Homo sapiens: one gene and its partners. The protein of the gene in region 2 interacts with the protein of the main gene of each other region in a pairwise test. Each region holds a gene or a part of one and is shown on either strand. Other genes may lie near its edges.

Region 1 (3,500 bases), on a different chromosome or scaffold from region 2:
GATATACCTGCAATAGCCAGAAGAAAAGTAGATTACATTTTATCAGTGGACATATAACAATCAAATCCTAAAAGAGACTTAGATAATCTCACATGCATGACATCTGTTCTCTACAGGAGTTAAACTGGATTCTAATGGAAATATTCTAGGGGGAATTCTAAAATTTTAGTTGTTTTGAAACTGTAAACATGTTAAGTGGTGGGTGTAATATATAATGCATAATATATTAAATTCACATATGTATGAACATCTGTGTAAGTAAATTTATTAGAAAACTATGCAGAATATTCAATATCACATCCACACCTAAAATTTTTTTAAGGTTAATATTTCTAAAGTGCTTAAGACTATATGAAGTATGCAGTGTTTTATAAGAGTTTGTTAAATAAATTAAGTACTACGTCTAACCCTGAGATTTTCTTTTCAAATCAAAAGTCTGTACTAATTATTTTATCTCCAGTTTTTGGAGTGAATGATGAAATATAGAAGGGGAAACAATCTACTTTTCTTCCGGATAATCTGAAGCCATTCCTTTTGCAATCTTTATTTGAGAACTATTTCTGTCAAAAAAATCACTCCACTATTTCACCAAACTAGAGTATGCTATAAACAAGGATCTTGCTGCTAGTTATTGCTAGAAGTGAGCCCAAAACCCAGGTGTCACAGAGACTCCCATTCTAATACGCTTTTTGTCATACTGTTTCCTCTACATGGTAAAATGTTTTCTTTTTATACAACAGCTACTTAAAAATAAATTTTATTTAAATACCAAGGTTAAGTTCCAGTCACAATACTACATAAATTTTAAAAAGATCACAAATGGAATCGACAAAAGAGCAAAGGTCATAATAATGCTAAAAAGTTAAACTGCTGCTGACTTAGAAAAAAGGCACAATTATTATGCAAAATAGAAAATGTATTTAAAAGTTACCATCCACAGAAATATTGAATTTAATGTTGTCTCCATTATCTGAAGTTAAACATTATGTTGTTAAAGTTATAAAATTTCAGATGAGTAACAAAAAAGACAAAAGATGTATCACCTGAAAAACTGTAGACTGAAAGTTGCCATTTTATAGAATAAAATGTTTGTCTTGTTTTTGTTTCTTTCAGAGGCTATGTGGCCCCTCCCACTTGTTCTATGTCCTGCCTGGTTATTTCTTGACGTTCTCTTTTCAACCGCATCCATCATGCATCTCTGTGCCATTTCAGTGGATCGTTACATAGCCATCAAAAAGCCAATCCAGGCCAATCAATATAACTCACGGGCTACAGCATTCATCAAGATTACAGTGGTGTGGTTAATTTCAATAGGTATGTAGAGAATGCCAGAGTGTGGGTGGTATACAAAATCTTTGGTTCCACTTGGCTAGGAGAATACCAGGTCTGGTAGGCAATGAAACTCAGCATGAGAGGTCAAGCCAGCCTACTGATACATTAACATAAGCTCCTTATGTCACTGCATTTATCATACGCCTTCTAAAACATACTGTTGGTAAAAAGTGTGACAAGTAACAAAACTCATGTCCTCAGAAAGAACCATCTGCACAGTGTTTATTGAGATTTCTTTCTGCTTAGATTTCTATATGCAGAAAGGTTAAGTTTGAGAACAGTCTTCATATTTCCCAACAGATAATTATGGTCTAGCTAGCATTTGGAATCCTGTAATTACATTAAAATAACAAGAAATGCACCTTAAATCACATTTTAAAAGATTAATAAGAGAAAAAACAAAAATAACAACTCAAACATTTTGTGGGCAGGTATCAAAGAACACAAATTCATCTTGGAAGCCAACATTTCTGTACATATGTGTACAGATTAAAGGCAGTTAAGTGTCTGCTTCAGTGGGTTTTTTTGGTTTGTTTTTTCTTTTTTGGAGACAGGGTCTTGCTCTGTCACCCAGGCTAGAGTGCAATGGCACAATCATGGTTCACTGCTGCCTCGACTTCCCGGGCTCAAGCGATCCTCCCACCTCAGCCTCCCAGGTAGCTGGGACTACAGACACACCCCCCATGCCTGGCTAATTTTTGTATTTTTGGTAGAGGTGGGGTTTTGTCATGTTGCCCAGGCTGGTCTCAAACTCTTGAGCTCTGGCGATCCCCCTGCCCCAGCCTCCCAAAGTGCTGGGATTACAGGCGTGAGTCACTGCACTTAAGTGTTTTGAGTATGTTTAATTCAAAGTTTTAAGAGAGATGCAAAGAAAACATACCGATGTTCAGAAATTATGTATAAAAGAAATCCTTTTTCTTCTAAATCGTCTTACGGCCCTGTACTCATCTATAATACTCAAAGCTATACTTCTTATCATGAAGTATGCGTAAATCATTCAAAACTCTTATATGTTAGTATCAGAAAAACAAATAGATTTGCAAAAATTACAATGGTTTGACCAGCAGATTCTCTTCTTCCTTGTAAAAATATTTCAAAGAGGCAAAAAATTAAGAGACCTGGAATACTTAAATTACTCCTCCCTAATCTGAGTAGGGGCACTGGGGCAAAAACAGCAAGAAAGCAAAACAATGAGATTGACCTTCATATTCCTGAAATGATGATATAAGGGCTTGATCTCTTTGAAAAAGTTTGGAGGTAAAAGCAAGCTGTGTTACTCCTCTGGTATGGGAAGAAAACAGGGTCAAGAAAAAGTCTATTCAGAATGAAGAGATTTAAAAACAGTGAGAAAAGGCTAGATGAGGGGGCAGATGCCGACAGAGCAGAACCAGCCCCCCAAAAGCAGCTACAGAAAGGGAATGGGAGACAATGGGTGAAAATTAAAATTTGAAGTGCAGAGGAGGAAAACTATAATAAAGTCATTTATGCCAGATGACTCACATTTGGTAAGCTCACTGCAATGAGGGAGAGGGCAAGGGAGAGTGTGAGGTATGTGTATATTGGGGTGGGGTGGGAGAGTTGGACAGAGAAAGGGAAAAAAAGTTGAAGAAATGGATCCTTAAGAATAATTAAAATATTTGAAACTGTGAAATGTGATCAAGCTAATAAGGTAAGCAGCCTGCTGGTATAAATGGCATCTAGATTAAGGCTGGATACCATCAATTTATAAATTGACCACATTTTTATTGAGTGTTTATAATGTGCTAGGTACTAAGAATACACAGATGATCAAGAAAAAGAATCTTTGCATTCAAGAAAGGCGGACATATAAACAAATTACACTAACACAAAGTGATGAGTGATGCAGGAGAAAAAAGATTAAAAGGAAGACTCATGATATATAGATTTAGAAATCCACTTCTTCCTTTTGTAGGTAAGAAAAAAGAAACCTAGAGGTTTTAATCAGTTGGCTTAAGAACTCTTACAGCTTTTCAGCACCAAGGCCAAAATCAACGCTCTTTCACTTCATTGCACTTTGTCTTGTAGAACCGATCACAAATTAATAACTTTGAAAAAATGAAAATGCAGATGACAATAAGCTCAGTTCTGAAATTCTACAAAATGCTGAAGAGAGCTCACTCTCTTCTTTTGGATTTACAGTTATTCTA
Region 2 (4,145 bases):
TGTCACCAACCCCTGCCTGCGCCTACCCAGGGACTGGGCTCACTGGAGACCGTGGAGCTGCAGGACAGAGAAAGAAATGTGAAAGCATCTGATTGGACAGAACAGCCACACAGCTCTGTGTCTTCTGAGGGACTGCATGTGCCTGTACCACGTTCACCTTCCATTTATTATGTGTCACTCCCTGTGACATCTCCGCAGGTGCCTACTATTATTAACCTCTTTAACAAGGAAGGTACATAAAAGCCCACTTATCTCCCCATGGTCACTCGGCAATCAGGTACCCAGAGCCAGAGAGTTTTCTGGAAAGCCTGTACTGGTTCTCAAACCTTAGTGTACTGGGTGTTTCTGGGACAGGTGTTTCTAGGACAGGTGTTTGTTGGGGGTCACACTTTGAGAAATCATAGGAACCATGATGGTCTCCTGTCAACCAGTAGGGACTGGTCAAGTAAATTATATGAGAGCTTCAAAATGGAAATCTAGGCGGTCACATCACAACATGATAAAGATCATGTTGAAGACTTTAAAAAATGTTGAAGAGTTTAAAAATAAGAATAGCTTTTACCCCCCACCCCCAATGGCACTAGCTCAATGTAAAAAGCTGACACAGTACCGAAAAGAAAGTAAAAAATCATTTTGAGTCTTACTACTCAGAGATCTCTCCTGTTAGGCTTTCAAAAAAAAAAAAAACATTTTGACACAGCAAAATGTTTACGCAAGATTGATATACAAAACCAAACAGGTACAAACAATACTGTGAAACTCCATTTACACCGGAGATGGCCTCATCCTCAGCAGAAGCCTCTAGCACCATCTCTGCCAGGTAGAGGTAGGGGTGACACCCATCACCCCTTCTCTGAGTCCATTTGGTAAAGCAGATGGTATGAATGGAATGTCCCTAGTGGCTAATTAATCAGTCAGGGAGTTGCCATAACTGGTTTCCTTCTATCATCCTTGGGCCTGGGCCAGTTATCTTAGGAGCCCAAAACAGCCCAGACATGTTTTGCCATAGACCTGAACACCCACAGAACAGTAAGAGTAATTTGAAAGATTTCTTTTTGTTGTGCTAGGTCTGTGCAGACCCTGGCGATACAGAGATGAATGGGACAAGTCTTTGGCCCTTAGGGAGCTACCTGTCTATGAGGGGGGACATTTAAGTGAGCAAATAATTACAACAGGTTGTAGGTCAGAGAAAGGGAGGCACAGTGGAGGCTCCCTGGGGGTGCTGGGGACCAAGCCGCCTGAGAGACACCTGCCCTGGCCAGAGAGCAGTTGGCTAGGATGGTTCTGAAGCCAGAGAAGCAGGAGATAGCTGGGAAGATGAACTGTATGGTTTGTTCAGAGCTGGAAACACCCACGGAGTCCGAAGCCCCAGAGGGACGAAGACTCACCTGTCACTCAACCCTTTCTACTTTTGCCTTTTTGCTAGAGGAAAAGATGGAAGTCAGCACACCCTGACTTGAGAGAAGCGATCTGGGCTACAGTTTTCAATTAAAGGGCTTTGTGGTCAGATAGGCAAGGGGCAGGGCCCCAATCTTGTTTTCCTACTTGGGATGAATCTTGGCCTCTGAAAGTTTAACTGATTTGTGCTTTTTTCAGGGTGGGGCTGTGGTGAAGGAGGGAGCAATCCCTGGAACTTGTTTTCTTCTATATTTCTTCATTTGGGGTTACTTACACTTTGAGAAAAGCTTCCTTATTTGTAAACAAGGGTTGGGAAGGAGATGAAGGTCCCAGTTGCTAGGCTGACTGGCTGGGGAACTTTTGCAAGTGCTTTCCATCTATTTCCCTTTTTAAAGGACGGCTGATCATTTCACTAAATGGCCTACATACACTTCCTATATCTTTTTTTTTTTGTTTTGTTTGTTTGAGGACGTCTTGTTCTGTTGCCCAGGCCGAAGGTCATGGCTCACTGCAGCCTGGAACTTCTGGGCTCAAGCAATCCTCCTCATCCTGCCTCAGCCTCCGAGTAGCTGGGATTACAGGCGCCTGCCACCACTTGTGGCTAATTTTTGTAGAGACGGGGTCTAGCTATGTTGCCCAGGCTGAGCTTCCTGTATCTTAAATTCTATGACATTCTTCATGGGATGAAGAAAATGATATGACTTCTTCAAAGACGAACGAGTCTTGCAAGCTGTCGTTCTCTCCAGCCCAGGTGAACCCTACCAAGAAAAACAGCTTGTCTGAAACGCTGTTTTCTGACTGAAAGTGTAGGGAAGCTGGAAAGTAGCTGGTTCTGTTTTATTCCCCGAAGAATCAGGCTACAAACTTGACAAGAGCAGGGCCGGGGATGTGCGCTCGGTGTGCGCGCGGGGCTGCGGGCTGAAATGCGCCGGGGGTTTCCCTTTCGTGGAAGCCTTCCTGGAATCTCCCAAGGCGCTGCTCTCCGCCCTGGGGCGCCGGCCAGAGGTCCGGGGCCGGGGGCCCCGGACCCAGCTGTCTTCAGCCACCGCGCCCCCACTCTCAAGCCGCGCCACCGCGGGCGCTCGGTAACTGCTCGCCTAGCCGGACTGCCTCCCAGCAGGAGGGACAAATAAAGAGGAAAACCACAGAGCCACCGCAACCTATACCTGCCGCGTCCCCCAACCCTGTTCCAGCTGTTGGCAATGCTGCCAACACACCCTTCACCAGCCCCGGGCCAGCGGCAGCGAGGATTCGGGGTGCCGAGATGGCAGCTCCAGGAGACCCCGCCCCAACCGCCCACCCTCTTCACCGTAGCGCCCGGCCCTTACCGCCATGGTGAGTGCGCAGGGCGGGCGCCAGGGCCGCGTCTGCTCGCTCGGGTCTCCTCGCTCCGAGTCAGTTCAACCGCCGCCGCCGCCGCCGCCGCGATAGCTACCCTGGCCGCACGGATCACGTGGTCCGGGCGAGGCGGCGCGCGGGCGCCTGGGAGTTGTGGTCCCCACACGCGCCCTACTTCGGCGTCCTCGGGCGCGCCCCCTGGCCGAGACCCAGGCGCCTCGCCCCAGGTTCCCAAGGGCTGAGGCTTGGCGTTCCCGGAGTCGCGAGCGAGAGGGACCACCTGCTGCCCTCTGTCTTCGCCCTTCCTGTTTTGCACTTGGCTTGTCTTGGCGATTATGAGAATGTTTATTGCTCATTGTAATAAACTACCCCAAGCGTAACATATATTGAGTTGAAATGGGCAAGTCCGTGCTATGGACGCAATAGCAACACATTTGGAGTAAATTAAGTCAATTATGCCCTAGATTTTTAGTGTAGTCATTACAAGATAATTACATTTTTCTTTTTAGAAAAATATTTTCCAATCTGATAAGCCAAAAGGAATACACCCGTGTAATTTTGTTTTTCTTTGATTACTAGGGTAGTAAACTATTTTTCTTACGGGTACTTCCATTTCTGTGTATTGCCTGTTCATTTCACTGATCCAGTTTTTTGATGGGGAGTTTCTTGTAGGGTGAGGGATTTTTAATGGTTATTGATTCTTAAGCATATTTAGGAACCCTTTGCTAATCAGCCTATGAGTAAAGAGGCTCTTCAGAGAAACCTTACTAAGGACAGTATTAGCAGAGACCTTGAGCCTGGAGCTAACCTCAGTTCACATCCATACGCATCAACTATTGGCTTTGGGACCGTAGGCAAATAGCTTACATCTCTGAACCTCAGTTTTCTGGTCAGTAAAATGAAAATAATAATAAAATCTATGTCATAGGGATTAAATGAAAACATACATGTTAAATTATCATGTAACCTGGCAGTGGGAGCTTGTTCAGTAAATGGTAGAATCCTCAGGGTCACACAGCTTTTTTTCTTTTCTTTGAAACAGAGTCTCGCTCTGTCGCCCAGGCTGTAGTGCAGTGGCGCGATCTTGGCTCACTGCAACCTCCATCTCCCGTGTTCAAGCAATTCTCCTGCCTCAGGCTCCCGAGTAGCTGGGACTACAGGCGCGCACCACCATGCCTGGTTAATTTTTGTATTGTTAGTAGAGACGGGGTTTCACCATATTGGTCAGGCTGGTCTTGAAATCCTGACCTCGTAATCTGCCCGCCTCGGCCTCCCAAAGTGCTGGGATGCTGGGATTACAGACGTGAGCCATCTTGCCCGGCCCACACAGCTTTTAAGATTCTCAGTCTGAAAGCTAATGGAGCAGCTTCAGGGAGAGAACATGGGCCGTGGCACTGTGATGGGGCTGG
Region 3 (4,052 bases), on a different chromosome or scaffold from region 2:
CAGTCATCACCATCACCACCATGATCACTGCCATCATCACCACCACCATCACCACCATAATCCCCCCCAACTATTACAACCATTAACTTATTTAACAAAAATTTATTAATCACCAACGATTTTCCCAGCCCTTTCCAGCACCATTTCAGGTGCTTGGATACACTCATACCTTATTAGCATCCCTCCTGTCCCCCCGTCACCATTTTCGGTCTCCATTGCTAGGCAGCAGTGTGGACTTGGAAGCCTTTTGATATGTTCTTACAGATTCTGGAGCCCTCAGAAACCTCTGGCAACTGTAGGGTCAGCATTTGAGTCTGTGAGGGGTCATGGAGGGGACTCAAAAGCAAGGGGAGCAGACTCTTTCCCTTAGGGCTCTAAACCTTTGCTCCTGTGCAGAATCCGGGGTGTGTTCTGGTAGCCTACATGCCCTGACTCCTCTAAAGTAGACCTGTGTTTAAGGCTTGGAATCCTTCTGTGTGTGTCAGAGTCACTTGAGGAGCTGGTTAAGACGTTTGACCCCAGGCCCTACCCCCTGAGACTGACTCATGAGTCTCAGGTTGGGTCCAGGAGCTATCACTTACCAAGCCCCCATGGGAACTCTGATGTTAAGGGACTCAGGGCCACTGTAGCTTGTGGTGGCCAAGAGGAGCCCCTTGCCCTTTGCTGCCTGGTCCAGCCAGCATGGCCAAGTGAAGCCTTTCTTCTCCCTCTACTCCGCAGGCACACCAAAATGAAGACAGCCACCAATATTTACATCTTTAACCTGGCCCTGGCCGACACTCTGGTCCTGCTGACGCTGCCCTTCCAGGGCACGGACATCCTCCTGGGCTTCTGGCCGTTTGGGAATGCGCTGTGCAAGACAGTCATTGCCATTGACTACTACAACATGTTCACCAGCACCTTCACCCTAACTGCCATGAGTGTGGATCGCTATGTAGCCATCTGCCACCCCATCCGTGCCCTCGACGTCCGCACGTCCAGCAAAGCCCAGGCTGTCAATGTGGCCATCTGGGCCCTGGCCTCTGTTGTCGGTGTTCCCGTTGCCATCATGGGCTCGGCACAGGTCGAGGATGAAGGTCAGTGGGGTGTCCCCTCCTCCCCTCACCAGGCTCCCTGGCTCCCGGGTGGCTCCTCTGGGCCCACGTGCCCTCCACGTCTCCTGGGCCCACTCTGACCCCGTTTCTCTCCCTGCAGAGATCGAGTGCCTGGTGGAGATCCCTACCCCTCAGGATTACTGGGGCCCGGTGTTTGCCATCTGCATCTTCCTCTTCTCCTTCATCGTCCCCGTGCTCGTCATCTCTGTCTGCTACAGCCTCATGATCCGGCGGCTCCGTGGAGTCCGCCTGCTCTCGGGCTCCCGAGAGAAGGACCGGAACCTGCGGCGCATCACTCGGCTGGTGCTGGTGGTAGTGGCTGTGTTCGTGGGCTGCTGGACGCCTGTCCAGGTCTTCGTGCTGGCCCAAGGGCTGGGGGTTCAGCCGAGCAGCGAGACTGCCGTGGCCATTCTGCGCTTCTGCACGGCCCTGGGCTACGTCAACAGCTGCCTCAACCCCATCCTCTACGCCTTCCTGGATGAGAACTTCAAGGCCTGCTTCCGCAAGTTCTGCTGTGCATCTGCCCTGCGCCGGGACGTGCAGGTGTCTGACCGCGTGCGCAGCATTGCCAAGGACGTGGCCCTGGCCTGCAAGACCTCTGAGACGGTACCGCGGCCCGCATGACTAGGCGTGGACCTGCCCATGGTGCCTGTCAGCCCGCAGAGCCCATCTACGCCCAACACAGAGCTCACACAGGTCACTGCTCTCTAGGCGGACACACCCTGGGCCCTGAGCATCCAGAGCCTGGGATGGGCTTTTCCCTGTGGGCCAGGGATGCTCGGTCCCAGAGGAGGACCTAGTGACATCATGGGACAGGTCAAAGCATTAGGGCCACCTCCATGGCCCCAGACAGACTAAAGCTGCCCTCCTGGTGCAGGGCCGAGGGGACACAAGGACCTACCTGGAAGCAGCTGACATGCTGGTGGACGGCCGTGACTGGAGCCCGTGCCCCTCCCTCCCCGTGCTTCATGTGACTCTTGGCCTCTCTGCTGCTGCGTTGGCAGAACCCTGGGTGGGCAGGCACCCGGAGGAGGAGCAGCAGCTGTGTCATCCTGTGCCCCCCATGTGCTGTGTGCTGTTTGCATGGCAGGGCTCCAGCTGCCTTCAGCCCTGTGACGTCTCCTCAGGGCAGCTGGACAGGCTTGGCACTGCCCGGGAAGTGCAGCAGGCAGCTTTTCTTTGGGGTGGGACTTGCCCTGAGCTTGGAGCTGCCACCTGGAGGACTTGCCTGTTCCGACTCCACCTGTGCAGCCGGGGCCACCCCAGGAGAAAGTGTCCAGGTGGGGGCTGGCAGTCCCTGGCTGCAGACCCCGAGCTGGCCCTGGGCCAGCCGCACCTCTGAAGGTTTTCTGTGTGCTGCACGGTGCAGGCCTCATCCCTGACTGCAGCTTGACTCTGGGCCCAACCCCCATTTCCCTTCAGGAGACCAGCGAGAGGCCCTGGCCCATTCCCTCCAGCGGTGCAATGAACTATCATGCTGTGGACCGTCAACCCAGCCCTGCTTCTCAGTGTGGGGCAGGTGTCTCAGGACGAAGGCGCCGCGTGACCACATGGGCAGCTCTGTTCACAAAGTGGAGGCCTCGTTTTCCTGGTCTTGACTGCTCTGTTTGGGTGGGAGAAGATTCTCTGGGGGTCCCCACATCCTCCCAAGGCTCCCCTCACAGCCTCTCCTTTGCTTGAAGCCAGAGGTCAGTGGCCGTGCTGTGTTGCGGGGGAAGCTGTGTGGAAGGAGAAGCTGGTGGCCACAGCAGAGTCCTGCTCTGGGGACGCCTGCTTCATTTACAAGCCTCAAGATGGCTCTGTGTAGGGCCTGAGCTTGCTGCCCAACGGGAGGATGGCTTCACAGCAGAGCCAGCATGAGGGGTGGGGCCTGGCAGGGCTTGCTTGAGCCAAACTGCAAAGGCTGTGGTGGCTGTGAGGACACTGCGGGGGTTGGGGGGGGGGCGTCTGTACCTCAGGGGATGCCCCGCTGTGGTCACCCAGAGAATCACCCTTCCTGGTCTACAGATGGAAGCTGCAGGTTGGTGACTTTGCAAATGCACTTCCTACAGATGAACTATTAAAAGACCTGCAACATTGAAAAAACTCATTTTTTCCACCAAAACCTTGGCCAGGTAACCTACCTTAGGCACCTGCAAAGAACAGGAAGTGATGGCTGTCTCGCAACAGAGCCTGGGCTGCTCCTCCTGCTCTGGGGAGTCTAGGCCGTGGGGACTGTTCTGGGGAGGCTCATGCTGTCTCCATGACGTCTGTGGCAGGAGTCCCTGAGGACGGGAGCTGCCTAGCTACAGTTTTCTTGCCAAGGCGAGGTGTTTTGTGAATCTGTGCTGATGTAATGTGCACCTTCACGTATTTATGCATGTGGCAAGCGTTACTTCCTGTGCACGTAGCCAGCCCTGGGTCTGTCTCTGGGGTAATGAAAAAGGACCCTAATAAACACCTGCTCACTGGCTGGGTATTCTTTGTAACCAGTGTTTCTGGCTCCTGCCACCTGGGGATTTGCTTCTGGAGTGACTTTTCTGGGATTGGCACGTGGGTGGGAGGAGGCTATGGGTTTAGGCTGAATTCTTGTACCTGTCCTGTGCTGCTCAACAGGCTGGGCTCTGCCCTCAGTGAAACGTCCCCCAGGAGGCTGCAACCCTGGGGAGAGTTGAAGCCAGTTAATGGTGTGTTGGCCGGGCTGTTACCTTTTCTTCAGCACACACGGTTTCTCTCTAAACAACCGATGGCTGCACCTCTCCCCTGCCCCCTGGAAAGAGAGGTTTCCTGAGGATACAGTGGGAGGGTGCTGCTCCCACCCAGGTTGCAGGGTTTTCTTACCCCCATTTCATCTCAGAAGAACCCCTGCTCCTGCTCATTTCCCCTTCCTTGAGCAGATCTGAGGGGAGTTTTGGTGAAGGATGAGCAGACGGCCTCCTCTAGGGCTGGGTACACTCTTGCCATGGACATCTGCCTCCT

What was found. Proteins that work in one complex are often made in the same cells at the same time.
Region 1: the proteins of SLC31A2 (region 2) and HTR2B interact in a two-hybrid assay, tested with the Homo sapiens proteins (one large-scale study listed by BioGRID and IntAct).
Region 3: the proteins of SLC31A2 (region 2) and OPRL1 interact in a two-hybrid assay, tested with the Homo sapiens proteins (one large-scale study listed by BioGRID and IntAct).

Annotation. Positions count from the first base shown.
Region 1 is NC_000002.12:231,111,543-231,115,042, reverse strand, and holds part of HTR2B (5-hydroxytryptamine receptor 2B), read left to right. Parts: intron 1-1,113; coding exon 1,114-1,314; intron 1,315-3,500. UniProt on the Homo sapiens protein: G-protein coupled receptor for 5-hydroxytryptamine (serotonin). Also functions as a receptor for various ergot alkaloid derivatives and psychoactive substances.
Region 2 is NC_000009.12:113,149,662-113,153,806, reverse strand, and holds the start of SLC31A2 (protein SLC31A2), read right to left. Parts: upstream 2,801-4,145; 5' UTR 2,733-2,800; coding exon 2,727-2,732; intron 1-2,726. UniProt on the Homo sapiens protein: Does not function as a copper(1+) importer in vivo. However, in vitro functions as a low-affinity copper(1+) importer.
Region 3 is NC_000020.11:64,097,082-64,101,133, forward strand, and holds the end of OPRL1 (nociceptin receptor), read left to right. Parts: intron 1-720; coding exon 721-1,076; intron 1,077-1,194; coding exon 1,195-1,718; coding exon of another isoform or gene 1,719-1,805; 3' UTR 1,806-3,552; downstream 3,553-4,052.